7 linked regions of the Homo sapiens genome follow. The protein of the gene in region 1 purifies or fractionates together with the protein of each later gene. This does not show direct contact. Each region holds a gene or a part of one and is shown on either strand. Other genes may lie near its edges. The genes, in order: SYT6, SFXN1, NAA15, CYRIB, NSDHL, CSTF3 and LIG1.

The links.
Region 2: the proteins of SYT6 (region 1) and SFXN1 purify together in Homo sapiens (affinity purification with mass spectrometry; one large-scale study listed by BioGRID and IntAct). This does not show direct contact.
Region 3: the proteins of SYT6 (region 1) and NAA15 purify together in Homo sapiens (affinity purification with mass spectrometry; one large-scale study listed by BioGRID and IntAct). This does not show direct contact.
Region 4: the proteins of SYT6 (region 1) and CYRIB purify together in Homo sapiens (affinity purification with mass spectrometry; one large-scale study listed by BioGRID and IntAct). This does not show direct contact.
Region 5: the proteins of SYT6 (region 1) and NSDHL purify together in Homo sapiens (affinity purification with mass spectrometry; one large-scale study listed by BioGRID and IntAct). This does not show direct contact.
Region 6: the proteins of SYT6 (region 1) and CSTF3 purify together in Homo sapiens (affinity purification with mass spectrometry; one large-scale study listed by BioGRID and IntAct). This does not show direct contact.
Region 7: the proteins of SYT6 (region 1) and LIG1 purify together in Homo sapiens (affinity purification with mass spectrometry; one large-scale study listed by BioGRID and IntAct). This does not show direct contact.

The regions. Positions count from the first base shown.
Region 1 is NC_000001.11:114,088,329-114,092,274, reverse strand, and holds the end of SYT6 (synaptotagmin-6), read left to right. Parts: intron 1-192; coding exon of another isoform or gene 193-264; 3' UTR 265-2,983; downstream 2,984-3,946.
Region 2 is NC_000005.10:175,477,324-175,481,359, forward strand, and holds the start of SFXN1 (sideroflexin-1), read left to right. Parts: upstream 1-1,236; 5' UTR 1,237-1,316; exon of another isoform or gene 1,317-1,344; intron 1,345-4,036. UniProt on the Homo sapiens protein: Amino acid transporter importing serine, an essential substrate of the mitochondrial branch of the one-carbon pathway, into mitochondria.
Region 3 is NC_000004.12:139,307,502-139,311,908, forward strand, and holds part of NAA15 (N-alpha-acetyltransferase 15, NatA auxiliary subunit), read left to right. Parts: intron 1-4,407. UniProt on the Homo sapiens protein: Auxillary subunit of N-terminal acetyltransferase complexes which display alpha (N-terminal) acetyltransferase (NAT) activity. The NAT activity may be important for vascular, hematopoietic and neuronal growth and development.
Region 4 is NC_000008.11:130,009,575-130,013,981, forward strand, and holds part of CYRIB (CYFIP-related Rac1 interactor B), read right to left. Parts: intron 1,747-4,407; exon of another isoform or gene 1,082-1,746; intron 1-1,081. UniProt on the Homo sapiens protein: Negatively regulates RAC1 signaling and RAC1-driven cytoskeletal remodeling. Regulates chemotaxis, cell migration and epithelial polarization by controlling the polarity, plasticity, duration and extent of protrusions.
Region 5 is NC_000023.11:152,861,173-152,865,579, forward strand, and holds part of NSDHL (sterol-4-alpha-carboxylate 3-dehydrogenase, decarboxylating), read left to right. Parts: intron 1-1,423; coding exon 1,424-1,552; intron 1,553-4,407. UniProt on the Homo sapiens protein: Catalyzes the NAD(P)(+)-dependent oxidative decarboxylation of the C4 methyl groups of 4-alpha-carboxysterols in post-squalene cholesterol biosynthesis. Also plays a role in the regulation of the endocytic trafficking of EGFR.
Region 6 is NC_000011.10:33,150,852-33,155,258, reverse strand, and holds part of CSTF3 (cleavage stimulation factor subunit 3), read left to right. Parts: intron 1-4,407. UniProt on the Homo sapiens protein: One of the multiple factors required for polyadenylation and 3'-end cleavage of mammalian pre-mRNAs.
Region 7 is NC_000019.10:48,131,822-48,136,228, reverse strand, and holds part of LIG1 (DNA ligase 1), read left to right. Parts: intron 1-103; coding exon 104-195; intron 196-449; coding exon 450-549; intron 550-2,162; coding exon 2,163-2,248; intron 2,249-3,131; coding exon 3,132-3,247; intron 3,248-4,407.

The sequences.
Region 1 (3,946 bases):
TGAAAATCAGGTATTCCAAACTAGAAGCTCTAAGCTGTTTCCCTTATGTTTTTGCATGGCTGACAGCAAAATTCAAGAAAGCTTATGAGAAGCTAGGAAAGGTGAATTCAGTGCATTGGGCCAGTTCAGTTTTGCAAGTTGAAATGTAAATTCCTTTAGCAATTAATAAACAGATTGTTCTCCTCTTTGCAGTGGCAGGGCCGAGCTGCTAGCTTCGACAGTGAGAGCTCGTGCCCATCTCCGAAACCACCTCCAACACCATGAGATGTGCAGCCAAATAACACAAATGGGACTCAGCAATGTTCTCTTTGCACTTGTTCAACCGTCTAAACAGTGTTGTGCAGTCGCAGTGGCGGCAGCAGCGGCAGCCGTCCGTCACTCCAGAGTCTTACCTGCTCCTGTGTAGGTCAAAGCTGAGACACTTGTCATGTGGTCAGATCTGTCTTAGTCTTTTGTGTCTCCCAAGGTGATGTTTTTGTGGTTTTTCACTTTTTATGGGTCTGCTGGTAAGAAAAGGGAAAAAAAAAAAGAGTAGGAAAAGACAAAGGGTGGAAAGCCCAGAAGTTGGTTCTAGAAAATACAAGGTACAGTTTTTTGGAAAGAGGTGGATTGAGTTTCTGAAATGCTGCGTCTCCAGCAAGCTCCACAACCCTGGAAAAGGAGGAGGCGTGGTGGGACTGCGGCTGCATTTTCAGTGCCCTGCAGGAATGGGGTGAATCCATGGAAGAGCCTTTGTGAGGTGAATTACTAGTCTTTGAAGCTCTTCGCTGGCAGGACATAAACCACGCTGGGACCCTCAGTCCCGTGTTGAAATCACAAGACCTCTGAGGCGCTTGTGAGCCTTCAGCTGATGTGCAGGGTTCCTCGCTCCCCTTCCTCGCTGGCTTTCCCCATGAATTGAAAACGTCTTGATTCCTCATGGGAACTTAGTCACTTTCTTTAGGAATGATTCAGTTCAGCCGAAACTAAACACGCCATATGTTTTCTGATGCGCCACAGTTAATGATCACATTTGTTTGAAAACAGGATCTTTGTCCTCAGAAATAATCTTGATTGTAAAGTAAGAGAGAAACATATGTTCTGGAATGATTTCTGCATTATACATAGCTTTATAATTCCATGAAGTATCAAGCTGCTGTTTAAAATGCCTAAACAGATTAAAGAAAAACCTAGATTAAATGTTCTTTTCCAAATGGGGAGTTTTGAAATCCAAATAGCAGTTTGAGTCCATCTTTCTATGAAGAGTATGTTTTTGATTGAAACCGAGTCAGCGTAAGCCTATTTCAGCCCCTTTGGCTCTTTGACAATATTCATCTTAAACTTTAGTTCTATAAATTACTAAGTACTTCAGTGTTGTTTGTTTCAGTGGTTGTGAGGGTTTCTTGTTTCCTTTAGATCTTTACCTTAGGCCAAACTCAGTTTAGGAAAAAAAAAATTGTTTGAACTATTCTGTGTTGTAATAGCACATTTCTGTTGAGTTAATAGTGGTCTTCCCACCAACCCCTAAAACCAGGTTGATTTGCTCAATCTCAGTTTGTATAACCCCAGTAAGCGCATGGAGGTGAGTTTCTACTTCGACTTGTGGCGACACAGTGCCAGTTTCCTGAGCTGTGTGTACTACTTGCAAGAGGCAAGTCTGCTGAAGAACCCCTTCTTTTAACAGTGGAAAATCAAGAACAGAAAATCTGTTCACACACCTGTGTCTTATTCTTTATATATGCTACATGGTAGAGGAGCAGCGACCAATAAAGTATCCCTCATTTTAAACCAAGTTGTCAGATTTCTCTGCTGATAGAACGCTGCATAGTATCTTCTAGCCCTAAAAATGACCAGGTTGGGCATGAGTTAACAGGATATTGTGGCAAAAGGAATTTTCTGCTTAGAAAAGTAAATGTAGATAAACCTAAACTCCACCCTGTACTGAGCCTTAGGCTAGGGACTCATGTGTAAAGATGACTTTTCTCCCCAGATATCTTGTCATTGACAGGCCTTCCTAGTCTGGTAGTCCTACATTTGGGTGTTCTCCTGAGAGTGAGAAAAAACCCAAGGTCATGACAAGATTCCTGGCAGGTGACAGACTTCATTATGATTCTGACTCTAGACTGACCCCATCAAGATAGTCGTTTCCGTCAGTGAACAGATGCTGAAGGCCTTGCCATTACAAAGGAGACAACTGAGTTCCCTGGGTCATAAGGAGTCCAGAAATTAGTGTGAGAAGGTCCTTCTGGAAGTGAACTCAAAATTCATGTCCAGCTGTCATCGTTAAACCCTTAGGCAGGTGAGTATAACCCATTCTAACCTCTTGGAGAAGGGAGTGTGATCAATGTGAATCACAATAGTATTGCTCATCTGAGACATTCCTCTTATATCCAAGCAGCTATCTCCCATGAGTGAACATCCCAGTGGTTTCAGAAAATCATGTCCTGAACAGATTCTAGCCAGCCCCACACCACCCTGGCCAACTGCAACCGCTGCTGCTCTAGCAGTCTGGGTCAATTCCTACAGGCTTGGGAGCCCACCCCAGGGAGGCTTTTATCTCCTGCAGCCTCATCCCCAGCACCCTCAAGGTAGACTACTCCTCAGCCTGAATCATGAATGAAACCTGAACATCTGCCAACTTCATTATCTAGCCCAGTATCTCTTCCCTCACAGAGAAGAAGAAAATGAAATACAAAGTTGATCCATTTGTTGGCTTTCTCTGGCCGGAGAAACCTCTCGGGTTGTTGCTGTGAGCTTTGATGAAGTTGTGATAACCAGGGCCATTTGCACATAGGTTTTTTTAAAAAACATGAAAAGTTCCCTTCTCCTTTATTTAGCAGTGTTTCCGGGCTGAAAGACGCCCTCCTCCCCCTCTGCGCTTACCCAGGACGTTAATTAATTGCACTGTCATTTAAAATATTATGTTGTTAATTACTCGTTTGTGTCTTCCCACCCGTGTCACAGCCTGGAGTTTTTATTCAATTAAATCTCTGTCTCTTGCCCATTTCTCTTGTCATTTTATGTTCCTGGGGTTTAGCAGTCAACACACGCACAGGACATCTCAAAGCTTTTCTTCTCAATCTTTGCTTCACATGGATAACCACTTCCCTTCTATCAGAGGTAGAGCAGAACGGCTTGTTTGTTTTTTGTTCTGTCCAAGGAATACCTGTGTACCTCATCAGGCTGGAATCCACCTGTGTTTTGTCAGGCTTGTGGCTCGGAGATCATTTGGCGCACAGGGCTCCGCTGTTCCCTCAGCTGTTCAGCTCAACAAGCAACCCCTGCAGATGCTGAAGCTCCCCTAGGGAAGTGGGCCACACACATCTGGGAAGTACGATGCTGTCACCCACCAGTAGAGAATCCTGCTAACCATCGTAAAACACAATTTGGCAAAGCCATGGGAAAATACTATTGCAGCCTCAACATTTTTTTTTAAAAAAAGAACATTCTAATGTAATAGAATATCTCTCTGCTCGCCTGCAGCTTTTAATTAATTTAGAGAGCAGTCCGTAGAGAGGGGAGTGGAAGGGACCGTCCATTCCTGCACATCTGCATCTGAATGAGGGGTGCTCCACCGTGAGAGGCCCAGTGAGCTGAACTGCTGAGAGCAGCACTCTACTGCCTGAAGAGGCAGCCTCCCCTTGCCAGTGGCTTCCCATCAGGTCACCCAGCAGCCAGCAGGATGTGGCAATGTGCTGGTCACATCTAGAGCTGATAAACCAAAGGGGTCATTGTGTCTGTTAGTATGGGTTGGGCTATGCTGCAATTACAACCTGCAGATTGCAGTAGCTGAAAACCACAAAAGCCTATTTCTCATCCATGATAGGCGCCCATCACAGGTCAGCTAGGAGCCTTGCTCAGCTATCACAGGTCAGCTAGGAGCTTTGCTCATCGTATTTATTCAGGGGCACTCAGGAGGACAGAGCAGCTGACATCTCAAACACTGCTAGTTGCCACCCATAAGGGA
Region 2 (4,036 bases), on another chromosome or scaffold:
AAGAAGGGGCGATCTTTTATATATCTTTTTGAGCCCAGCACTTGGCACAGGGTATGGTACAGAGAAAAAGCTAGTTAAACATTCATAGGAATTTGGAGGATGAGGAATAGCACTCAAAATATCTGTGACATATTGCTTAAGTTTTAGAAGTTTTGTTTTTCACGTTTGGATCATTAATCCACCTGGAGTTGAGTTTCATGTATTATACAAGTAGGGATTTGGCTATCCCAGTACTGTTTAATGAATATCTAACCTTTGTCCCCTGACCTGTGATGCCAACTCACAGCAGGTTTCTACATGTGCAGGTTTCTACATGGATGGCAACTCTATTTGGCTCCGCGAGGCTCTTTGTTGACCCCGGAGCAAACACACCACCTTTGTTATTTACCATTGTTTTATAACAAGTTTTGTATCTGCAGGACAAGTCACTCTGCCTTGCTCTTTTCTTAAAAGCTTGTTTGGCTGTTTCTGGCTCTTTATTTTTTTCATGTACATTTTGCAGTCCGCTTGTGCAGTTATAACACACACTCCACCAAGCACACTAGTGTTGTCGAATTTTTTTTTATTGTCATAGGTCATTTGGGAGAGAATTTACATCTTTAAAAATGGAATCTTCCTATGCAATTTATGATGTAATTCACCATTTATTAGATTTCATTTGCCCTTTAAATATGCCCAGGTTACCCACCTGGTCCAAAATACCATGATTCCTCTCCTGGATAACCACAGCATCTGGCTAAACAGCCTCTCTGCCTCCACATCCCCTCCCACGCAGTCTGTTCTCCATAAAGAAGACAGAGTGCGCCGTTGTTGTTGTTGTTGTTTAAGACATAAATCAGGTCGTGGCACTAAAGTCCTAAAATCGCCTTGTAGCGCCAGTCTTGCCAAGCTCCACACTTTAATTGGGTAAATGACTGCGTGAACGGATGCTGGCTACGCCAAGGCCCTGGGAATAAAGAAATGATAAAGAAGCAGTCCCTTAAGGGAAACCCAAATGGAACATAGTGGCCCCAGCCCGCGCAGAGCCCCACACCACCGTGAGGATGGGCTTGGAGTTCCTCTTGGACCCGGGGCGCGGTCGCTAAGCCAGAAGCGGAGTCGCGGGCGCGGGGCGGGGCCTGGACCCGGGCCTGGACCCGGAGGGCGGGTCCCTGGGCCTCGTAGCTCCCGGGCCCGGACGCGCGCTCACAGGCGCGCGCGAGGACGCGCTCCGGGGACGCGCGAGGACGCCGTGGCGGGAGAAGCGTTTCCGGTGGCGGCGGAGGCTGCACTGAGCGGGACCTGCGAGCAGCGCGGGCGGCAGCCCGGGGGAAGCGGTGAGTCGCGGGCGGCAGGCCCAGCCAGGTGGGTGGGGAAACGCGCAGGGGGCCCGGCGGAGGCGCGCAGGCTTGGGCAGGCTCGGGCCGTGCACCCGCGGGCCGGCTGCGGGGAGACCCCGGGCTCGGAGGTCGGAAGCCCCTTTGCGGGCCGGGGATGCCTCGGGCCGGGGGGGGGGTCCCTGCACCTGGGGATCCCTGGCATCCTGCGGCCGGACAACACCACGCTTCCAGCATCCCGAGGCCCAGCATCCCGTGGGCCTCGTCCCCGGTGGGAAGGGCCCTCCGCCGCGTCCCCGCGCGCCTGGCCGCGCTGTCTTCGGCGCCTGCGTGGCGAACTCGCTCCGGGGACACCAAGATGGCTGCCTCGGGGGCAGCGGCAGCCAGGTGGCCCAGTGCCTGGCCCAGCGCTCCGCGCTCTCGGCTTTGCCTCCTGGTGCTGGGGGTCGGAGGGGAGACCACCTGGTTCCTGCCCTAGAACTCGCAATCCAGTAGGGAGGTGATGTGCAAGGAAGTAGATTCTTGGAGTAGTAGTTGGTCCTACAGGGACCTTGCATTTTCACGCTTTTCTCCTGAACTTTCACGTCTGTCACAGGTCTCTAACCTGCCCAGAATGACAATAAACAGTCTACTAAGTGCGTGCCAGGTGACTTAGGTCCATATACTTTTACACTCTTCCGGCCCTGCGAGGTACTGGGTGTTGGCTCTATAATCCACATGAGAAAACTGGGGCTCTGAGAGGTTGAGTGCCCAAGGTCACACAGCTGGCCATCCATAGTCCAAGGCCATCTGAGTCTCAGTCGTAAATACTGCGTTCTCAAAGACGCTTTTCCTTGGCTATGCTGTCTAAAATTGCACCCCCCATCCCCCCACACACCCTTTGTAACACAAACTCTGGGTTTTTTCTCTTTAGTGTCTTTTGTCACTAGTTGAAATTAAAGGTGTTTACATGTTTTCTTCTCCTCATGTGAACAGGGCCTATTTTGTGTTGCTCAGCCTATCTATCCCCTGCGCATAACAATTGCCTGCACCAAGAAGGCCCTCAATGAGTATTTGTTGACTGCCTGAACGAAAAAGCCTAGCTCTGCTTCACTCCAGAGCCTGGGCACTTAGCTGCTCCGTAGGCAACTCTTTTCTGCGCCCCCATAGCTTTTTCCCTGCACATTTCTCACAGTCCTAGTCCCTCTTCTGCGTTGACTTCTAGATTTTGACTTGGGTGCCTTTGGATTCTCCCTTCTTTGTCCATCCCCCTTTTACTGATCTGCTTCAGTGTTCTAGGCATTGTTATAGGTGCCCAGGGAGGATGCAGGTAAATGAGGAGGCTTTGCAGCTCCTACAGCTTCAGACTTGATATAAAAGATGAGAGGGAACTGTTTGGGAGGATGAATGGGGTGGCTACCAAGAAGTTCTGGGACCTCAAGCAGATCCTTTCTCTCCTCAGCACTGAGCAGGTGTCTCACTTTCAAAAATACAGTGTTTGGGCCAGGCGCGGTGGCTCACGCCTGTAATCCCAGCACTTTGGGTGGCCGAGGCGGGCGGATCACGAGGTCAGGAGATCAAGACCATCCTGGCTAAGCCGGTGAAACCCCGTCTCTACTAAAAATACAAAAAATTAGCTGGGCGTGGTTGCGGGCGCCTGTAGTCCCAGCTACTCGGGAGGCTGAGGCAGGAGAATGGCCTGAACCCGGGAGGCGGAGCTTGCAGTGAGCCGAGATCGCGCCACTGCACTCCAGCCTGGGCGACAGAGCAAGACTCCGTCTTAAAAAAAAAAAAATACAGTGTTTGGCAGGGAGGAGCTATCAGCTCCCATCTCAGCTTAGTACGTATTCAGAGGTTAGATTGAGGCTTTCAGGCCACATGGATGTTCAGAAAAGGGATGATATCTGTGGTTACAGTTGTCAGAGAGGACCCTATATGGCAAAGGGTGTCATAATTCAGGATCAGTGAAGTGTTTAGCTGTTCTTAATTTTCTGTAAAAGTTCTATGAAACCCCATGGGGATGGATACAGAAAGGCACCAACTGGCAGGGAATATCCCTTCCTGCTCCTCACTTCCTGCAGAGAAAGCTGAGAGGACAGCCTGGACAGCAAAGGTGGTAAGAGCAGACCCGTCATCAAACGTTGTTGTTCTGGAAGACTTACGTTGAAGTCAGGCATCTGTATCCTGTTGTGTAGCAGTGGTGAGCTGCATTCAGTTAGAGTAGAACCATGAGTGTGACCAATTTTTCCTTTGTGGTTAAAGGTAAGAAATCAAAAGTAGTGAATCCATTTTTTAAAAAGGGGGGAACAAAGGGCTGTTGTCCAGAAAGTGAAAAGTCATTAAATTAGACCATGTGTCAAACCTGCACTTAATTACACAAAGTTCAAAGTTACTAAGTTTTTCTTTAGCAGCTGTTAATTTGTAAAATAGTTTTATAGACTTTGGTATATGGCATCTCCGAGTTGATTCTTATACATGGATGGTAAAACTTCATCCAAATATGTCTAAAATTCTAGTTTAGTGTTGTTCATTTTTTGCAGGCTGATATCACCATCTCAAATAGAAATCAGAAGATTTTTTTTTAACTGTAATAACATCACCCATCCTAAGATACTGCTTAAGAAATCCATGCCCATAGTTGATCTTGAGGACTGGAATATGAGCAATGGTTGTAATGTTACATCCGTGTTTTTGTTTTTTGTTGTTGTTTGTTTGGTTTTTGAGATGGAGTCTCGCTCTGT
Region 3 (4,407 bases), on another chromosome or scaffold:
AGCAGTCCTCCTGCCTTGGCTTCCCAAAGTGCTGGGATTACAGATGTGAGCTACTGTGCCTGGCCTGGCCACATGTAATTATTGCACACTTGAAATATGGCTAGTGCAACTGAGGAAATGAATTTTTAATTAATCTTAATTTAAATTCAAATAGTCACATGTGGTGAATGGTTACCGTTTTGGACACAGCATGCTTTATTTAGAGTCCTTTCTTAATTCTCAAAACTTTTCAAGGTGGGGACATTTTTATTAAGCAAACAGACTGAGATTAAGGTCAACAGCTAGTGTTAGTTACAGTCTGGAATAAAACTTTTTTTCTTTTCAGGGCACTTAACATCACACCTGCCTAGTGTTTAACTATTTAGGGGAGGGGTGTAGGAGGAGGGTGAGGGAATTGTTAGGCAAAGGAGTAGTAATACTTATTAGGTGGCTGTATACATTGTATAATAAGTAAATTATTATTATTATTATTATTTTTTTGAGACGGAGTCTCACTGTTGCCCAGGCTGGAGTGTAGTGGTGCAATCTCGGCTCATTGCATGCTCTGCCTCCCGGGTTCACGCCATTCTCCTGCCTCAGCCTCCTGAGTAGCTGAGACTACAGGCACCTGCCACCACACCCAGCTAATTTTTTGTATTTTTAGTAGAGACGGGGTTTCACCGTGTTAGCCAGGATGGTCTCGATCTCCTGACCTCCTGATCTGCCCGCCTTGGCCTCCCTAAGTGCTAGGATTACAGGCATGAACCACCGCGCCCGGCCCATTGTATAATAGGTAAATTATTTTATGTGATTTATTTTCTTTGGGAAAGTTAATGTTTCTGCTAGTTAATGATACTTAGTTTAGCTTCAGTTGCTGATGAAATTTAGATTAGGAATTGTTAGCAAGTAGGTGTCCATATGCACATGAAAGTTTAACTGATTAATTTCTTTGTGACAGAATTCCAGTTTTGCAACTAAGAGTGGACAGTAACTTTGAAATTGGTTTTAATATACTTTTGCTTGTACTTCATATATTTAGAATATAACAAAAAATCAAAAAATGGAAACAAAGTTTGGTCTGTTCTGAAATCCCATTCAGCTCTTAGTAGTTAATCATAAGTTTATTTATTTTTTTGAGATGGAGTCTCACTTTTGTCGTCCAGGCTGGAGTACAGTGGCGTGATCTCAGCTCACTGCACTCTCCGACTCACTGCAACCTCCACCTCCCAGGTTCAAGTGATTCTCCTGCCTCAGCCTCCCCAGTAGCTGGGATTACAGGTGTCCACCACCACACCCAGCTAAGTTTTATATTTTTAGTACAGACAGGGTTTCGCCATGTTGGCGAGGCTGGTCTCAGACTGCTTACCTCGGGTGATCCACCCACCTCAGCCTCTCCCAAGTGCTGGGATTACAGGCGTGAGCCACCGCACCCTGCCGGTAATCGTAAATTTAAACTCGGATAAATTATCCCTTAAAAGTATACCAGAAAACAAAATGCAGTTTTGCTATTTTATATATGTGTATATAATGTGTATATAATTATTATAAAAATTACAAAATGATTTTTCTGTAAAAATCGAGTGAGGGCCGGGCACAGTGGCTCACGCCTGTAATCCCAGCACTTTGGGAGGCTGAGGCGGGTGGATCACCTGAGGTCAGGAGTTAGAGACCAGCCTGGCCAACATGGTGAAACCCCGTCTTTACTAAAAATACGAAACTTAGCTGGGCGTGGTTGCAGGCACCTGTAATCCCAGCTACTTGGGAGGCTGAGGCGGGAGAATTATTTGAACCCAGGAGGTGGAGGTTGCAGTGAGCCGAGATCGCGCCATTGCTCTCCAGCCTGGGGGACAAGAGTGAAACTTCGTCTCAAAAAAAAAAAAAAAAATCTAGTGAGAAGTGAAAATCTTTTAATAATGTGGTAAATTTATTCTTTGCTTGCTTTTTAAGTGTGTGTGTGTGTGTGTGTGTGTGTGTGTGTGTGTGTGTGTGTCCAGGATTTCACTGTGTTGCCCAGGCTAGTCCTGAGCTCAGGTGATCCTCCTGCTTCAGCCTGCCAAGTAGCTGAGATTATGGTACATGCTACTGCGCCTGGCCTGTTTGCTTACTTTTTAATTTTTGTCTTTCTGGAGTGAGATGCAGTATGAATGAACAAATATATGTTTTTGTTTTAAACTGACAGCATATATTTTTAAAATTCTGTATTGTGTTAGAAACCTGAAATGTTTTAAAAAATATTTTTTAAAAATTCTTTTGCGTCAATAGAGTGGGTTAAAAATACTTGTTTGTGCAGAGTGACCACAGTTCAGTTTTCAATAGTAGTAGATGGACAACACTATATTTTCAGAAAAGCAGACTAAAGCTTAAAAGGGAACTGAATTTAATGTTCCATTTTTTAGATGTGTCAAAGTCTTGCAGTCCTGGGTCATTATTGGGGCTCAAACTAGTTATTTGATGATAATAGAATTGCCATCCAAACTATTGGAGCGCTGGTTAATGAACAGTTTCCAGAGGGGCGGGCATGGTGCTCGGTGTGATTGGGGGACTGGAGAGATACTGTCCAGCTGGCCTCAACTGAAGGGATCCCTCTCCTTAGTGTGCAGTCTTATATCTTTTAATATTTCTGCTTCTGACAATGAAGTTCTGACAGAGCATTGATTCAAATATATCTTCTTTCTTCATAAAAACATTTTTGGGCCGGGCGCGGTGGCTCACGCCTGTAATCCCAGCACTTTGGGAGGCCGAGGCGGGCGGATCACGAGGTCAGGAGATCGAGACCATCCTGGCTAAAACGGTGAAACCCTGTCTCTACTAAAAATACAAAAAATTAGCCGGGCGTAGTGGCGGGCGCCTGTAGTCCCAGCTACTTGGGAGGCTGAGGCAGGAGAATGGCGTGAACCCAGGAGGCGGAGCTTGCAGTGAGCCGAGATCCCGCCACTGCACTCCAGCCTGGGCGACAGAGCGAGACTCCGTCTCAAAAAAAAAAAAAAAACATTTTTGGACATAAAAAGCTATGTCGTATAAAGGATCATATGCAAAGGACTGTTCAGAATTTTCTCCCCCAGATACCTGTGTGACTCATTTTTCTTATTTGTTTTAGGACTTCTGCTCAGATGTCCTTTATTTTTAATTTTAAATTTATTTTTATTATTATTTTTTGAGACAGGGTTTTGCTCTGTCACTCAGCCTAGCATGCAGTGGCACAATTTTAGTTTACTTCAGCCTCTGCCTCCTGGGTTCAAGTGATTCTCCTGCCTCAGCTTCCTGAGTAGCTGGGATTCCAGGTGCCTCCTACCACACCTGGCTAATTTTTGTATTTTTAGTACAGGCGGGGTTTCACCATGTTGGCCAGGCTGGTCTTGAACTCCAGGCCTCAGGTGATCCACCTGCCTCGGCCTCCCAAAATGCTGGAATTACAGGTGTGAGCCATTATGCCTGGCCTAATTTAAAAAATTTTGAGACAGAGTCTTACTCTGTTGCCCAGGCTGGAGGGCTGGAGTGCAGTAGTGTGATCTCGGCTCACTGCAACCTCTGTCTCCTGGGTTCAAGCGATTCTCCCACCTTAGTCTTCTGGGTAGCTGGGACTACAGGCACATGCCACCATGCCTGGCTAAACAGGTGTCCTTTAAATGTTATTTAGAGACCTTCCTTGGCTAGCAGTCAGTCCTTCTCACCTTATTTTCTTATTTCTTACTTTATTCTCATTTATCAGCTTCTGACATACATTTACTTTTATGTTTATCACGTTTTCCACAATTAAAATGTAGGGTTTATGAAGATAAGGACGTCTGTTAATGGCTCTATTCACATTGGTTAAAATGATGTACCATAGTAGATGTTTAATAAATATTTGTTATGTGAAGTGAGTGTGAAAATAGTGATTACAGGGCAAGAGAGAAAAAGATCTTTGGATTGTGTGCTTGCATAAATTTTTGGAGAAGGGAGTTAAGCTGGGCTTTGGCATTACAGAGTACATTAGTGTATGAAATAATTGTAGGATATTGGGCAGAGCCTATATTATGGTAAGACTTTGAAGTTTAATTTATAAATGAATTATAGTATTTGTTTATATAGCCTTTCATCACAAAAGCATAATAAGAGGAAAATTTTGTTATTGTTTCTTTGGTTTTGGCATTGGAGGAGAAATGGTATCAGGATTAAATGAGTTTGTTGTGAGGAGCCTGCTGCTGTATTAGAATCTTCAGATAGTAGGGCTCAGCCATACGTCATTTCATAAAGCTTTACAACCGATTCTGACACGAAGTCAGGGTTGATGACCACTATATATGATATTAAGAAATAGACCTGTTATAAAATTTAAAATATAAAATGTTAGAAGAGCTGGGCGCAGGGGTGCATGCCAGTTACTCAGGAGTCTGAGGCAGCAAGATTGGTTGAGCTCAGGAGTTGAAGGCTATAGTTTGTGATTAT
Region 4 (4,407 bases), on another chromosome or scaffold:
ATCATGAAAAACTGTCCCCCTGCATTAAATTCAGATCCCATCTCTGCCAGAAGGATAGCCCTGGACAAATCATACAGCTCTCACCCACCTGTGACTATGCCCCATGGGAGAAGGACGTGTATATGGAGGCTTTCTGCTAGACTATGCTAGATGCTTTGATACACATTATCCCACTCAATCCTCCAAACATTCCAGGGAAGCAGGTGATAGTAGCCCAGCTTCATCAATGACAATTCTGGTTCTGCAGTGGGATGTGATTTGCCCAAGGTCATGCAGCGCTGAGAAGCAGGCCCAGGGCTCCATCAGCCCTGCCATGCAATAGGCTTTGTTGAGTGAGCACTGGATGTAAATTCCAAAGAGCTTAAAGCGGCCAGACAGAGCCAGTGACAGGAGACTCTATTAGGCAGATGAGGAAAGAATGGAGCTTTTCTTCCTCCTACCGCCCAAGCCTTTCCCATCCTTAACTCCTCTGCACAACGGGGCCCTCACTGTCCTTCCCCCACCTTCTTATCAAAGGATGCTGGTGCTGGGAGGGGGAAAAGACAGAAAGAGGATTAGTCTCTGGCATGGTTTATGTTGATTTCAAAGCTGTCACTTTTCCCACATTGGGCCTTCTTTTTCACTGTGGATTTAAGTGCCTAGTCCCCTGATGAACGAAGGTCAAGGGCAGAGGTACATTTTGAACTAGAGAAAGTCCTCAGCATCCTCCTGCTCTCACAGCCTTACTGCTAAACACAGCAGTGGATGCAGAGGGTGGCACTGTGGAGCGGTGAGCAAAAACCAGGCTCAGGAGCCAGAGGCCTAGGTTCCAGTCCTGACTGTGCCTCTTGGTCAAGATGCTTCCCCCCAGGAGGTCCCAGTTCCCTTGTGTGTTAAAATTAGAGTACTGGATGCTTAGGCCTGAAACTCTGAGTATGGGGTTTCTGCTCAGTCCTTCAGCTCACACTGCCTCTCCTCCCCCGCTCCCTGAAGGCAGCCCCATCTCAATGGCTCACAGCATCTAGGCCCTCCTGGGCTTATTCAGCACCTGCTGGCAGACAGAGGTGGTCTCTCTCCCACCCCTTCCTGCTCCCACTGTCACCTGTCCTGAGGTCCATCCTAGGCCTTTGTCACTTTGTCATATGTGTGTTTTCGCATGCATGCCTCCTCCTCTAAGCTAACTTGGAAACCTCCAGGGTCATGTAGAGATTTGCACCATCAGCATCAGCCTGGCTCCTGAATGAATGAAGGGGAGAGGGTCAGGTTGGATGATCTCCTGGCCCACTGCACTCAAAGTATGGTCTACAATCCAGAGGCATCGCATCATGTGCAAAAGTGTTCAAAATGCAGCATCTCACCCTGCCCCAGCCCCTGCTCAGAACCTCCGAGGCAATCCCCACGTGATGCGCAGCACACTCAAGTTTGGAAAGTTCTCTTCCAACTCCTCCCTCCCTTGCTTCTACCACCTAGAAGCCTCCGGAACTATGGCCTTAGCAGGTCTCACTAAAACATAGCCCATCATTAACCAAAAGAGATCTGCCTTAGGAACCTTCTAGAAGCCCGCCACTGACTCTCACAAGCAGAATCTGAAATGTGTGCTCCCCGGGGGGACTCCTGGCACACATTACTCAGTGGCCCTCTCCGACCCTCAAGGAAGCCCAGGAAGCTTTCAAGAACGCTGAGGCGGCCAGGCGTAATGGCTCATGCCTGTAATCCCAGCACATTGGGAGGCTGAGGTGGGTAGATCACCTGAGGTCAGGAGTTCGAGACCGGCCTGGCCAATATGGGGAAACCCTGTCTCTACTAAAAATACAAAAATTAGCCTGGTGTGGTGGTACGCGCCTGTAATCCCAGCTACTCGGGAGGCTGGGGCAGGAGAATCGCTTGAACCCGGGAGGCAGAGGTTGCGGTGAGCTGAGATCATGCCATTGCACTCTAACCTGGGCAACAAAGCAAGACTCCATCTCAAAAAATAAAAATTAGGCTGGGCATGGTGGCTCACGCCTGTAATCCCAGCACGTTGGGAGGCCGAGGCGGGCGGATCACAAGGTCAGCAGATTGAGACCATCCTAGCAAACACGGTAAAACCCCATCTCTACTAAAAATACAAAAAAAAAAGAAAGAAAGAAATTAGCCAGGCATGGTGGCGGGTGCCTGTAGTCCCAGCTACTCGGGAGGCTGAGGCAGAAGAATGGCATGAATCCGGGAGGCGGAGCTTGCAGTGAGCCGAGATCGCACCACTGCACTCCAGCCTGGGCGACAGAGCGAGACTCCATCTCAAAACTAAAAATAAAAATAAAAATAATTAAAAAAAAAAAGAACGCTGAGGCCTGGCAGAGTCAGACAGACTGGCTGCCCACTCACCCACACGGATCCCATGTCCACGTTCAGAAAGCTCTCTTCCCTCATTTCTCTACTCTTGACATTTATTCAGCTTGTAAAGAAAAGGATCCTTTCCAAAACACGTCTTCAGTTTTTTAATAAACCCCGCAATTCCTTTAATGATTTCAGATTATCTTAAATATTTATAAAAATCACTCTCAGCAACACTTCTTTAAGCAAACCTCCTCATCAACTTCGATTATTTATATATTTATGAACACGATGTTCAAGGAGCAGATGGCAGCTAGTAAGTCCTCCAAAAGAAGGAAAAAAAAAATCAATGGGACAGAATGTAAGCTCCATGACTCGTCCATGTACTCTTCTCGACAAGCTCTGGTACAATTATCTTTCCATTCAGCGGAAGCGCCACACAAAAGTCCACAATTGGTTTAAAATAGCACACTTGGACTTCATAAAGCTTGGAGGCTCCAAGTTTAATCCAGGAATGACCTGCCAGCCAAGGGCTCTATTCCCAAAGGAAACTGAAGCTCTGTCAGGGGAGGGTAAGACATTGGATGCAGGGACAGATGATGGGACCAGGGGAGGGACAGAAAGAGCACCAGGGGCTGAGGGAAGAAACAGACATTGCTGAGCACCTCTAGGTGCCATGCTCTCTGCTGGGCACTTTCCATACAACCTCTGGGTTGATCGTCACAGCAACACTTCCAGGTGGCGACTGTTAGTCCTCATTTGAAAGATGAAGAGAAAGACAAAGAGAAAGGAAGTATCTTGGCCAAGGGCACAGAGCTAGTGAGTGGCAGAGCCAGGATGTGAACCCAGGCTGTAGGGCCCCAAAACCTTCACTGCCTCTAGAAAGAGAAAAGGAGGAGAGGAAAAAAAAAATATTGCTCTCAACCTCATGCATCCTAGGCTAACAAAGTTGCCTTTCTTTCAGCCTGGTGAGGCCAATCACCCATTTTAAGACTATCAAAGACTTAATTGCCAAAGTTCTACTGAAGCAAAAGGACCTGATCCATCTGAGAGCCCAGAGAAGGATGAAAAACAAGATTACAAGGCGTCCGTCTTCAACAGGCCTTTATCAAGTATCCCCTTTAGGGAAGAGAAAAAAAATCAATCCTTCACTCCTCCCACCCGAATTTCCTTCTTTCAAGAAGCTCCAATTCAAGCTAAAACAGAGAGATGAATCTGGCCTTTGAGACGCCTATACGCTTGCTGAGCAAACAGTGATTATTACTGTTGTTGATGATGATAACAATAATCATGGATGGTGATCACTATTATACGGGGTGTGCAATGGGAACAGGGGCCTATGCTAAGGACTTTGCTTATGCTACTGCCAGGAGCAACACATCCCCGTGACACATGCGCCCATTTTACAGATGAGAACACTGAGGCTCCAAGAAGGCAACAAACTTGGTTCCATGCACACGAGCAGTGAGAAAGAAAACCAAGGCATGAATTTGGATCTTACTCTCTTACTCAGGAGCCCTGGGAGACCAACGGGGATTCTTTTGCCTGTTTAGAGATGAGGAAAAGAGGGGGCCGAGAGTGTAGTGACCTCTAGAAGGCTGCACAGCCAAGAGATAGTGAAGGTGTGTCTGATAAAATTCATACTTAAAATCTGAATTTTCAGCTATACAACACTTCCTTTACAATGCTCAGTGGTGGACGATTTTGCTGAAGACAGCCAAGTCCCAGACCGCCAAAGCCACATGAATCGTGGTCTCTTCAATTAACGAGATGGCAGTAATGCTGAGCACGGGTGAGGCCACAACCTCCTGGCACCCGCGTCCCTCGGGCGTCCTTCCTGTTCTTCGTGTGCATGGGTCTCTGGATCCTGATATAAGAGCTGTCAGGGACCAGGATTCCACATAGGGAGGAACCACGGGACAACCATTTCAAGGTCAACTGCAGGCCAGTGCGCTGACCTTGAGATGGAAAAAGAATGTACATCCTCAAAGAGCAAAGGGGAACCCATCATTCTTCTGCCCATTCTGTCAAAAGACACGTACTGTTTCCTGCATGGGCCAGGCAGCAGGTCAGGTGCCAGAGGAAGCACAAAGACCACTCAGCGTCTGCAAGAAG
Region 5 (4,407 bases), on another chromosome or scaffold:
TGCTTTCCACATTTCAGTCTTTAATCCACCAGGAATTTATGTTTGCTTATGGTGTGAGATAGAGATCTAACTTTCTTCCATGTGTATAACCAGTTCAGTGCCATTTATTGCATAATCCATCCTTTCTGCATCGCTGCACACCATCTGCAGCATGTCTTAGGTGTTTGTGTCTTACATGGGCCTGTTCCCAGGCTCTCCCCTCTGCCCCATTGACCTCCCTGTCTGCCCATGCAGAGAAGCTCTGCCTTTTTAGGATAAGTCTCAGTGTACCGTAGATAAATCACGCCCCCAACCAATTTCTTCAAACTTCACTTGGCTATTCTGAGCCCTTTGTTCTTCTACATATGTTTGGCTTAACCAGTTCCTTGCTAAAGCCAGCTGAGACTGCTGTTGTAATTGTGTTGAACTTGTAGGTAATTTTGGAGAGAATTGACATCTTTCCCATATTGAGTGTTCCTGTCCATAAATATGGGATATGTTTCTGTTTATCTCGCTCTTTAATGTCATCAATAGAGTTTTATACTTTACTTCGTAAAGATTTTGCATATCTCGTTAAATTTATTTGTATGTACTTCGTTTTTTGTTATTTAATAACTTTCTATTACATTTTCAGTTATTGCTAATATATAAGACGAGTTAATTTTTGTATATTGATTTTTAATTCAGCAACTTTGCCAAACGCTAATATTTTCTACATATTTGCCTGTGTTTTCTGTGTAGATTTTTCTCTCATCTGTAAGCGATGGAAGTTCAGTTTCTTTTCAAATCATTATAAATTCGTGTTTATCTTACCCTACCACTCTGGCTAGAGCTTCTCATACAATGTTGAATAAGAATGGGAACGATATGATTCATGCTAATGGTGTTCAGTGTTGGATGAGCTTCTCTTAACCAGCAGGCTGGACGCTGGGGACCCTCATAAGAGAATATCTTCCTTTAGAATAGCATTTCTTAAGAGGTCGTGTGGTGTGTGTATTCCTATGTGTGTTCACATGGCCAGGTCACTATCAGAATAGCCAGTGATCTTTTTCAGACATCTTCCTAGAAGTTTGCGGGCTGCCCTTCACTTACAACAGAGAATCGCTGTCATAGTGAGATACCATGAATGCAAGTCTATTCTATCTCTCAGGTGTGATGGGATAGAAAAAATGTGTTATCCCTTGTTTTGAAACCAAGATCTCTTGATTCTTGGTTAGAATGTAATACATAGTGTGTCTGGAATCCACATAGCTGCAAAAGATGGTGATCTTTGGATTATTTTAAGAAGGCATGAAAAGCAAAGGCATTGCAGCAAATAATTTCTTCAGTGCCTCGAATGCGAGGGCAACAAAGGGATGCCCCTGATTCTCTTTCATACAGGATCATGCACTGTTTGAATTGTGATAATTTGTGACTTTTATTTTTTCTGACCTTCCTCTGTCAGAAACTCATTTTAACCAGCAGTGCCAGTGTCATCTTTGAGGGCGTCGATATCAAGAATGGAACTGAAGACCTTCCCTATGCCATGAAACCCATTGACTACTACACAGAGACTAAGATCTTACAGGAGAGGGTATGTACCTTGGAACTGGTTGAGTGAGCAGACTGAAGGGTTTAGAATCCTAAGAAAAATGTTTATGAACTTATGAAGTTTGTATTCTGAGGCCTACGTACCTGATTTGAGATGTAAAATTTGTGGGTGAAATTAAATTTAAAAATACTGTGAGAGGCCGGGCACGGTGGCTCACGCTTATAATCCCAGCACTTTGGGAGGCCGAGGTGGGTGGATCACCTGAGGTCAGGAGTTCGAGACCAGCCTGGCCAACATGGCGAAACCCCATCTCTACTAAAAATACAAAAATTAGCCCAGCATGGTGGCAGGCGCCTGTAATCCTAGCCACTTGGGAGGCTGAGGTATGAGAATTGCTTGAACCTGGGAGGCGGAGGTTGCAGTGAGCCGAGATTGTGCCATTGCACTCCAGCCTGGGGGATAGAGAGAGAGAGACGCTGTCTCCCAAAAAAAAAAAAGTTACTATGAGAACAGCTTTATGTGGCCAGACACTGTTCTGAGTGTTTTCCAGGAGTATTTTCCTTGTTTAAAGGTCACAATTATCGCATCATCACCAGATTATAGATGAAGACTGTGGTGCACAGATGCACAGAGAGGCTCAGAACCTTTCTAAAACTGTGCAGCTAGGAGGTGGCTGACCCCAGGCAGTCTGTCTACAGAGCTTACAGCCCACCCTCAATGCCATGGGAGCTTCCTCGCCTGCTATGGGAATTTACAGCAGTTGCAAGCGTGCAGACAGGAATCAGGCTGGAGGCACCTTCCTAGTGGCACTCTCACCCCCTCCCTTACTTAGAAAAACAAACAACGGAAGGATCTTGCTTTATTTTAAGGAAAAAGTACTTTTCCACTTGGCAAAACAGCTTCATCAAAGGGCACCTGATTTTAGTATGGTTGGATTCAGCCACGGTCGCTACCAAGCCTTCAGGCTGCTGGGGCTGTGGGGCCCCTGACAACTGCTAGCTGCAGATGGGGATTGTCACCCTGAGGCCATCCTAAGCTGCAGGCCAGGAGTGCTCCTGAGCCTGGGATAGCTCGTCTTAGCTGGGTAGCTGTGAGTATACCCCTCCCAGGTGTGTGCAGTGTATCACACCCACTGAGGTTTTCTCGCAAAGCCGGTACATGCTGTACTGGAGCTGAACACTGACCTGGCTACCTGAGAGCCAGCTGCCTCCTGGCTGTTTGCCGTATTTTTTTTTTTTTTCTTTTTTGAGATGGATTCTCACTCTGTTGCCCAGGCTGGAGTGCAGTGGCACGATCTCGGCTCACTGCAACCTCCACCTCCCAGGTTCAAGCGATTCTCCTGCCTCAGCCTCCTGAGTAGCTGGGATTACAGGCGCGTGCCACCATGCCCGGCTAATTTTTGTATTTTTAGTAGAGACGGGGTTTCACCGTGTTGGTCGGATGGTCTCGAACTCCTGACCTCATGATCTGCCCGCCTTGGCCTCTCAAAGTGCTGGGATTACAGGCGTGAGCCACCATGCCCAGCCTGTCTGCTGTTGCTTCAGCTCAGAAAGTCCTGGCAGAACTGGTCCACAGGGAGACACAAGGGCCACCCAGACCAGGGGTGGAGGCTTGAACTTTGGCAAGCCACAGTCCTGGCTCCAGACTATGCTGTCTTGCTCCTTGGAGCACTCATGTGCTCGAACTTGGCCCAAGGAGTACTAAAGCCTCCCTGCGCCTTGCAGGCAGTTCAGTCACCATGGAGACCCTGTGTATTCTCAACCCAATATGCCTGATACTGATTGCCACCAGAGCTGAGCCCATCTAGGCTCAGGAGCTTCAAATGATGGCCTTGGCCCAGACCATCAGTGTCTCGCTTATATCAACTTTTGGGTTCTCAACTGGAAATAAGCAAAGCCTGCAGATGACTCCAGCAGTAACTCACCGGAAGCCTCCTTTCAGCCGAGGTTGACATCCACTGTTGGCTTTATAACCTTCCTACTGATCATAAACCAAATGTGATGGGGAGCTAGGACTCCTTCACCTCTCTTCCCTTTAGTAGTAGAGATGAGCCTTGGTGGAAGCCATTTGAGGGTTTATTTAGTCATTTCCTCCATCGCTGTGGGGACCAGAGTCCTGGCGGGAAGAGGAGGGCCAGCTCTGGGAATCTGTTGAGAGGCAGCTTTTCCATTGTTGAGTTGCTTAAGATCACTGGGGCCAAAACATAGACCAGCACTTTGCTACCATAGAGTAGAAGAAACCCGAGGTGACATGACAGCAGGAACCGTACTTACCAAGCATACAGACACGCACTGAAGCAACTCACATGGGCCATCTCGTGTAATTCGCATGCAGCCCCGTCAGGGTAGGTACCTTTATGATCACCACTTTTACCCACGATAAAACAAATCCTTTGGAAAGTTTTGTTACTTTTGAGGCGAAACCCATTTCACTGTGCTTTAGACTCTTGAGTTCTAGTTTGTCCATGAAGTCACACAGAAGTCACCCTTTCCTTGCGGTGGCAACAGGAGCACTGGCTCTGGACCAGGCACTGCTCTGAGGACTTTACATGTCTCGGCCTCCTTTGCCCCCCAGCTGCTGGCCTGTTTCTCCCCAGGCATGGTCTTCAGACCCTTCACCTTCTCTGACCCTCTTCTGGGCCCACTTGGGTTTCTCAGAGCCCTCCCCTCGGAGGTGATACTCAGAATTGCCTGGAACAGACCCGGCCTGGTGGAAACGTGGGCGGCACATGCAGTTCAAGTCACTGGAGGCTCACGGCTAACTTGTTTGCCAGAACCTTTGGACGTTTTCCACAAACTGCTGCCGAGGCATGTCTTCTGGCAGTGTTGGTGGATTTTAGCCTTTGAACGCAAACCAGGGCCTTCTGATTTGATCTTACCAGTTTTTGCCCAGCTGTC
Region 6 (4,407 bases), on another chromosome or scaffold:
CCTAGTAGCGGGGACTATAGGTGCCCGCCACCACGCCCTCACGCCCAGCTAATTTTTTATATTTTTAATAGAGATGGGGTTTCACTGTGTTAGCCAGGATGGTCTTGATCTCCTGACCTCATGATCCGCCCGCCTTGGCCTTCCAAAGCGCTGGGATTACAGGTGTGAGCCACCATGCCCGGCCCAAGATCTTTTTTTTTTTAAGTTTTTGAGTTGTTTGTATGTTTAGATTTTTAATCTATGGATGATTTGGAGGGATTAGTTTTGTATTGTAGGATACATGTTCAGTTTCATTCACAACAAACATGAAGTAGGGTTTGGTTGCATTGGTAAAGGAACACAGAACTAAGCTGACATCTGGTCCTAATATCCGGTCTCATTGTGACACCTGTCACATATAGTTCTTTATTATCTGGGCATATGAATGGAATCAGTTAGGTTACTCCTCTATGAAAGTCTCAGCACGGCACCGTGGCTCACGCCTGTCTGTAATCCCAGCACTTCGGGAGGCTGAGGCTGGCGGATCACTTGGTCAGGAGTTTGAGACCAGCCTGGCTAGTATGGTGAAACTCCGTCTCTACTAAAAATACAAAAATTAGCTGAGTGTGGTGGTGCATACCTGTAATCCCAGCTACTTGGGAGGCTGAGGCAGGATAATCACTTGAACCCGGGAGTCGGAGGTTGCAGTGAGCCAAGGTACAGCCACTGCACTCCAGCCTAGGTGACAGAGTGAGACTTCATCTCAAAAAAAAAAAAAAAAAAAAAAAGAAAGTCTTACGGAGTGCTACTCCGGTCTACTTTTAATTTTGAAAAAAAGTTAACCACAGAGAGAGACTTAAGACTTCAAATATATAGTATATTCAGTTTTCTTAATATTTTAGCAAAAAATTCACTTGGAATGACAGGTTTGTTGCCACCTTATTTTTAATGAAACGTGACATTTGGAAAACATTTGTGGAACAGATAGATGAGGTGGTACATATTTCTTAAAGTGGAGCCCATGGCCCATTTATGTCATAATTAGGTGCGTTATAAAAGTATAGATACGTAGACTCTGATTTCAAACCTAACTGTTCAGTGGGGCTGAGAATCTTCGTTTGAAACAGGTACCACAGTGGTTTTTATGTCAATAAAAGCTTGCAGACCACAGAGTTAGATGATAGCTGGTTGTTTTAAAATATATTCTTGATAAATAAGTGGATGAAAAAATGGCAGATATTTGAGGATGGTATTTTACTGATTTTTCCTGCCCACCTGCTCCCCACCCCCATATATTTAGTTATTACCCTGAATAGCGAGAAATACTCATTATAAAACCAGGGTTGAGGCTCAACTCTGCTTTTTCTGTTGGTCATAGTAAAAAGCTTACATCGTCTTAAATCTTTCAGTCTACCATCTTTCTCCCCCTCTATTCATACTTTTGTGTTATCACTTTAACTGATCCCTACTTTAACTTAATTTCAGTATGGCTCCTAATATAACACCCTTCTAATTTATCATGAAAGTAGCTATTTGGAGAAAGAGAATTATCTTTTTTTTTTTTTTTGTCTGTTTTACCTGCATGGTCGAAATGGAAGAAATTAGATTATTATTATTATTGTTATTATTACTATTTTTTTTAGAGATGAGATCTTGCTCTGTTGCCCAGGCTGCAGTGCATTGGCGTGGTCATAGCTCACCACAGCCTCAACGTCCTGGCCTCAAGGACTCCTCCCACCTCAGCCTCCCAAAGTGCTGAGATTACAGTTGTGACCCACTGTGCCCAGCCTTAAATTATATTATTTCAGTCATTAACATGATAGTGTCTGTCACCTCTTCACATCCCACCTTCCCATTAACAACCTCCTAATAAAAGTTATGAGCTCATATAGAAAGAAAGTGGTTAGGAGTTTCAATAAAGCATAACTCATAGGGCTTTCCAGAGGCTACATCACCTATCCACAATTGTATGTAAAGGCTGTTAAAAATGGTCTTTCCTCCCTTTTCCAACTACGTAACTGTGAGGCTAAAATTTTTTCATATTTTTCATCTAAAACAATATATTGTAACAGATTGAAAGAAGCAGATAATGTCTTCTATTCAGCCAGACATTTAAAAGATCATGAAAATGTAAAATGGTGCCATTCTTTTGACTTTTTTTTTTATTTTGGAAAATTTCCTTCAGTAAAATATTTATATTCATATTTAAGGAATTTATTATTTTTAAGTGAATTAAATACTTTAATTTTTTGTTTTAATTTCTTATGTGAGTAATGATAGAATCCCTCTGGGCTCCTCAATTATTATTGTTATTTTTTTTTTTGGAGGCGGAGTCTCACTCTTGCTCAGGCTGGAGTGCAGTGGTGCGATCCCAGCTCACTGCAACCTCCACCTCCCGGGTTCAAGCGATTCTCCTGCCTCACCTTCCCAAGTAGCTAGGACTACAGGCATGTGCCCACACCCAGCTAATTTTTTGTATTTTTAGTAGAGACAGGGTTTCACCAAATTGGCCAGGCTGGTCTCGAACTCCTGACCTTGTGATCCGCCCACCTCGGCCTCCCAAAGTGCTGAGATTACAGGCGTGAGTCACCGCGCCCGGCCCAAGCTCCTCAGTTTTTAAGAATGTGAAGCAATCCTTTACAAAATGTTTGAGAATAGTTGGAATAGTACATCATGTCTGTGAAGCCAAGATTGTAAGTTCTATTTCTCTGAGTTAGTTAGCTTCACATAACAGACGGTTAAACATGGAAAGTGGCAAGGCATCCCACAGAATAGGATACAGTTTTTGTAAATCATGTCTGATAAGGGATTTGTAACTCCAACATGTAAAAATTCATTAATGAAAAAACCCAGCCAGGTGCGGTGGTGCACGCCTGTAGTCCCAGCTATTTGGGAGGCTGAGGCAGGAGGATTGATCGAACCCAGGAGTTCAAGTCCAACCTGAGCAACATAGCAAAACTATACCTCTAAAAAGTAATAATAATACGTCCAGTTTTTATTTTATTTATTTCTATTTTTTCAAGACATAGTCTCGCTCTGTCGCCCAGGCTGGAGTGCAGCGGCACAATCTTGGCTCAGTGGAACCTCTGCCCCTCCCCGCCGGCTCAAGGGATCCTCCCACCTTAGCCTCCTGAGTAGGTGGGATTACAGGTGCCTGTCACCATGCCTGGCTAATTTTTTGTATTTTTAGTAGAGACAAGGTTTCACCATGTTGGCCAGGCTGGTCTCAAACTCCTGATAAGTCCAGTTTTTAAATGGGCAAAATATTTGAACAGACATTTCTCCAAAGAAGATGTACAAATGGCCAATAAGAAAATGAAAAGACGCTCTACTTTGATAGCCATCAGAGAAATGTAAATCAAAACCACAATGAGATATCACTTCAGACCCACAAGGATGGCTGTAATAAAAAAGATAATATCAAATGTTGGTAAGGATATGGAGAAATTAGAACCCCTTATACTGGAAATGTAAAATAGTACAGCCCCTTTAAAGTCTGGTAGTTTTTCAGAAGGTAAAACATAAGAGTTACCACATTACTTAGCCATTCCATTTCTAGGTATATATCCAAGAAAAAGGAAAACACACAAAATGAACTCCACAAAGAAATCTTACACACTAATGTTCATAGTAACATTATTCATAATAGCCAAAACTGGAAACAATCCAAAGTCCATCGGCTGATACATAAACAAATGTAGGATATGCACATAATGGAATATTGTCAAAAGTAAAGTACTTAGTATATGCAAAAACATGAACTTTGAAAACACGCTAACTGAAAGCCAAAACAACGCCAGTCATGGTGGCTCACGGTGGTAATCCCAACACTTTGAGAGGCCGAGGCAGGTGGATTGCTTGAGCCCAGGAGTTCAAGACCAGCCTGGACAATATGGCAAAACCCCATCTCTATAAATTATAAAATTTAGCTGGGCATGGTGGCACATGCCTGTAGTCCATTATCGGGAGGTCTAGGTGGGAGGATTGATTGAGCCCAGGAGGTTGAGGCTGCAGTGGGCCATGATTGTGCCACTGCATTCGAGCCTGGGTGACAGAGTGAGATCCTGTCTCAAAGAAAAAAGAAAACTAGAAACAAAAAGAACACATATTGTATGATTACATTAAATATGGGCACATCCCTAGAGACAAAATAGATTAGTAGTTGCCCAGGGCTTAGGGATTGGAGGGAAATGGGAGTGACTGCTAACAGGTACAGATTTCTCTTTGGGGTGATAAAATGTTTTAAATGTGTGATGGTTCTGTAAACTTGAATATATTCATAAATAAAAACTATTGAGTTATACACTTCAGATGGGTGAATTGTATGTATGTGAATCATGTCTCAAGCCAGTACTAAAAAAGAAATTATAAAAGCTTAAATACATAATATGCTTATTCTACTTTCAAACCTTTTTTTTTTTTTTGAGA
Region 7 (4,407 bases), on another chromosome or scaffold:
GGAGAGGGTCTACATACATCAAGGTCGAGGAGATCAGAGAAGGGAGGAGGCAAGATTGGGGAGGTGCAGACAAGCCCCCTTCCCTGGCCTGCTCTCTCCCCAGGTCCCTGAGCGGACGGCTGCGCCTTGGGCTGGCAGAGCAGTCGGTGCTGGCTGCCCTCTCCCAGGCAGTGAGCCTCACGCCCCCGGGCCAAGGTGAGCTCCTGTGGCCCGTCTCTGCATCCCTCGCTGGAGTTACCTCAGGCTTCCCCCCTCCTCTTCAGAGGCCCATGCCCGCCCCTTCCCCAGCGGGCCCCTGCCATACCAGGCTCCTCTCTCCTGGGTGGGGGGGAGGGGGCGTCTTGGGCCGCGGCATCTGCATTCCTTGCCATACAGCAAACCACCCACTGCACCCTGGTGTAGCCAAGGATGTGGGTGCCTTCCAAAGCCTCTGGTGGGTCTTTTCTTAGAATTCCCACCAGCCATGGTGGATGCTGGGAAGGGCAAGACAGCAGAGGCCAGAAAGACGTGGCTGGAGGAGCAAGGCATGATCCTGAAGCAGACGTTCTGGTGAGAGCTGGGCAGTGGGTGGAGTTGCCAGGGGCTGTGGGCAGAGTGCCAGGGTGGGGGTGGAGCCAGAGGAGCAGTGGGTGGGGCCAGTGAAGTGACGGACAGGCATCACGAGTGCCGGTCACGGGGTGACTGAGAGCAGAGGTGGTGATCTAGACAAGGCTGGTGCTTGACACAAGGATGGTGACAAAGATCAGGAAGGTGGCAAACAGTGAAGGGTCAGTGACCCCAGGAGAGGTATAGAAAGACGCTGGCAGCGGCCAGGCACAGTGGCTCACGCCTGTAATCCCAGCACTTGGGAGCCTGAAGCAGGCAGATCACTTGAGGTCAGGAGTTTGAGACCAGCCTGGCCAACATGGTGAAACCCTGTCTCTACTAAAAATACAAAAATTAGCCTGTAATCCCAGCTACTTGGGAAACTGAGGCACAAGAATCATTTGAACCCAGGAGTTGGAGGCTGCAGTGAGCTGAGATCACGCCACTGCGTTCCAGCCTGGGCAACAGAGTGAGACTGTCTTAAAAAAAAGAAAGACGCTGACAGCAAGGGAGGGCAGCCGGCAACATGAGGTTTCTGAGTGCCAGACAGGGCTGTGCATGCAGAAAGGCCTTAAGGGACCCAGAGAGGAGCAGGTGACTGACACATGGTGAAGGGTCTTGACAGTCATGGAGAGGACATCCGTGGAGCGGCCACGAGGGCTCCAGAGAGAGCCATGTGGAGGGACCTAGGCCAGCAGCTGACCCAGGGCTGGTGACTCCAAGATCATGACTGCCCCAGAGAGGATGTCAGAGGCAGGAGGGCCGATGGCAGTTCCACAGATGGCCTCAGAGCACCTGCTCTGGGCCAGGGCCCCCCACTGGGTGCTGAGCAGAGAGTGGTGAACAGGCCCGGGCAGCAAGCTCAACTCTGCCTGCACGTGGGGCTCTATCAGCTGCTGACCTCAGGCCTACCCCACACCAGCTACATCAAAATCTTTGTAGGTGGAACCTAGCCTTGAAAACCTTTGTCTATTTTTATTTTGTTTGAGACGGAGTCTCGCCCTGTCATCCAGGCTGGAGTGCAGCAGCACAATCTCAGCTCACTGCAACTTCCGCCTCCAGGGTTCAAGTGATTCTCCTGCCTCAGTCTCCTGAGTAGCTGGGACTACAGGCGCGTGCCACCACCCCCAGCTAACTTTTATATTTTTAGTAAAGATGGGATTTCACCATGTTGGCTAGGCTGGTCTTGAACTCCTGGGCTCAAGTGATGCACCCACCTCGGCCTCCCAAAGTGCTGGGATTACATGCCTGTAGGCATGAGCCACCATGCCCGGCCAAAAACCTTTTTTTAAAAACTGTATTCTTGAGTGGTCTCCTGTGTAGCCGAGTAGAGAATCGCTGGTCTCGTGGTGACAGATAGGGAACAGGGGCAAGGCCAGACTAAGGGAGACAAAGCAACAGATAGTGACACGAAGGGAGAGCACAGAGACAGGGTGGCAAGAGGAGCTTGGCAGGTGGTGACTCAGTGGGCAGAGGCATCCAGGAGCCCAGGCTTCTGGGAGCAGGCCGAGCTCTCTTTCCAAACTGTGTGAGTTCTAGAAAGGCTTCCCCTATCTTGTTCTCACCCGCCACCCCAGCGAGGTTCCCGACCTGGACCGAATTATCCCCGTGCTGCTGGAGCACGGCCTGGAACGTCTCCCGGAGCACTGCAAGCTGAGCCCAGGTACAGGCCCCAGGGGCGCTCACCAGCCTGGCAGCAGCCCTGCTCCCTCCTGAGTCGGCGTGAGGGTGGCCATCGTAGGCGCCCCTCTCAGAACTTGCAGAGTCCTCTCCCCCACCAAAACCAAATGCTCCTCCCTGGTGCTGAAACCCACTGCTTTTCTCCTTGGAATTTCCCCTTGTGGAGTAGATAGGGTGTAGGTGACACTGCTGTGATAAACAGGAGCCGGGCGTGGTGGCGTGTGCCTGTGATCCCAGCTACTCGGGAGGCTGAGGTGGGAGGATCGCTTGAGCCCAGGAGTTCAAGGCTGCAGTGAGCCGTCATCGCGCTACTGCACTCCAGCTGGGCGACAGAGTGAGACAATAAATAAGTAAATAAAAATGGGCCAGAAGGCAGTGGGTCAGGCCAGATAGAATTTCTTTCTGTCACACAGAAGTGTCCAGAGCAAGGGAGGTGGCCAGGGAAGGTACAGGTGTGCAGCTGTGTCCCAGGGATGACCCGGGGACCCAGGTTCCTGTGTCCCTCTGCCCTCCAAAGGTTGTCACCCCAATGTCTGTGATCAAATGTGGCTCACTTCCCTGTTCTAATTGTGGGAGGAGGGACGCAGAGGAGGGAGGGGAGGCAACCAGATTCCTTGCAAGGATGTGAGCCAGACATTGCACATGCTGCGTGGGTTCCAATCACATGGCCTTTCCCACCTGGAAGGAAGGCCGGGGGCTGTAGTCCCCAGTGGGAGGCTAGGTCCCCTTCTAAAACGTGGGAGGCTTCGTGACTGAATAGCAAGAAAGCAGAATGGTCCTGGGGCCCATTAGCAGTTCTCCTCTCCATGTTCCCCCTCTAATCCATTGCCTTCCCTCTCCTCTAACTCACTCTCCTCCTTTCCCAGGGATTCCCCTGAAACCAATGTTGGCCCATCCCACCCGGGGCATCAGCGAGGTCCTGAAACGCTTTGAGGAGGCAGCTTTCACCTGCGAATACAAATATGACGGGCAGAGGGCACAGGTATGGGGAGTGGGACATGTCCCTTCCACAGACAGGAAAACGTCAAAGAGCAGGGGTGTGGGGTCACTGAGGCCTGAGCTTCAAGCCGGCCTGCGCCACAGACTGCCGAGCCCTCGCTCATCTCTCTGGGCTTCAGCATCCACCTCCATGCAGTGAGTGTGTTCTTTTTTTTTTTTTTTTTTTTTTTTTTTGAGACAGAGTCTCACTCTGTCATCCAGGCTGGAGTGCATTGGCATGATCTTGGCTCACTGTAACCTCCACCTCCTGGCTTCAAGTGATTCTCCTGCCTCAGCCTCCCAAGTAGCTGGGACTACAGGCGCCCGCTACCGTGCCCGGCTAATTTTTTGTATTTTTAGTAGAGACGAGGTTTCACCATGTTGGCCAAGATGGTCTCGATCTCTTGACCTCATGATCCACCCACCTCAGCCTCCCAAAGTGCTGGGATTACAGGCATGAACCATCGTGCCTGGCCTCTAGGGTGTGGTCTTAACTACCTCACCAGCTTATCCGAAGCTACAATCCTCCAGAGTCCTGACCGATGATAGTGGGAGCTCATGAAACGTGGGCTCCGCTGATGCTGCTGGTGGGTGTGTTCATTTTAACAGCCGTTCTGGGAGGTGCCTACATGACCCCTTCATGCCGTGACGTGCATGTGTGTCCTGTGATCCAGGGCCTCAGGCGTCCTTGGTCCTGGGGTCTGTAAGAATGTGTTGTGTCTCTTCTGTCCTGGCAAGTGTGGGGCCTTCTCACCTGGGGATAGGTAAGCAGGCAAAGTGGGTGGGAGCCACAGGGCTCGGGGCAGTTACAGGAAGTGGACCCCTGAGGAGACCAGCCTGGCCAACATGGTGAAACCCCATCTCTACTAAAACCACAAAAATGAGCCAGTGTGGTGGCGTGTGCCTGTAGTCCCAGCTACTCGGGAGGCTGAGGCAGGAGAATTGCTTGAACCCAGGAGGCAGAGGGTGCAGTGAGCCAAGATCGTGCCACTACACTACAGCCTCCACGATAAGAGTGAGACTCCATCTTTTAAAAAAAAAAAAAAAAAAAGGGTGGATCCAACAGACACAGGATCAGAGATGGATCTCCAAAATAGTGTTGAGAAAAAAGACACAAGATGATTTACGATAGTGACAATGATTTCTTGACAACTGTTCCTGGAA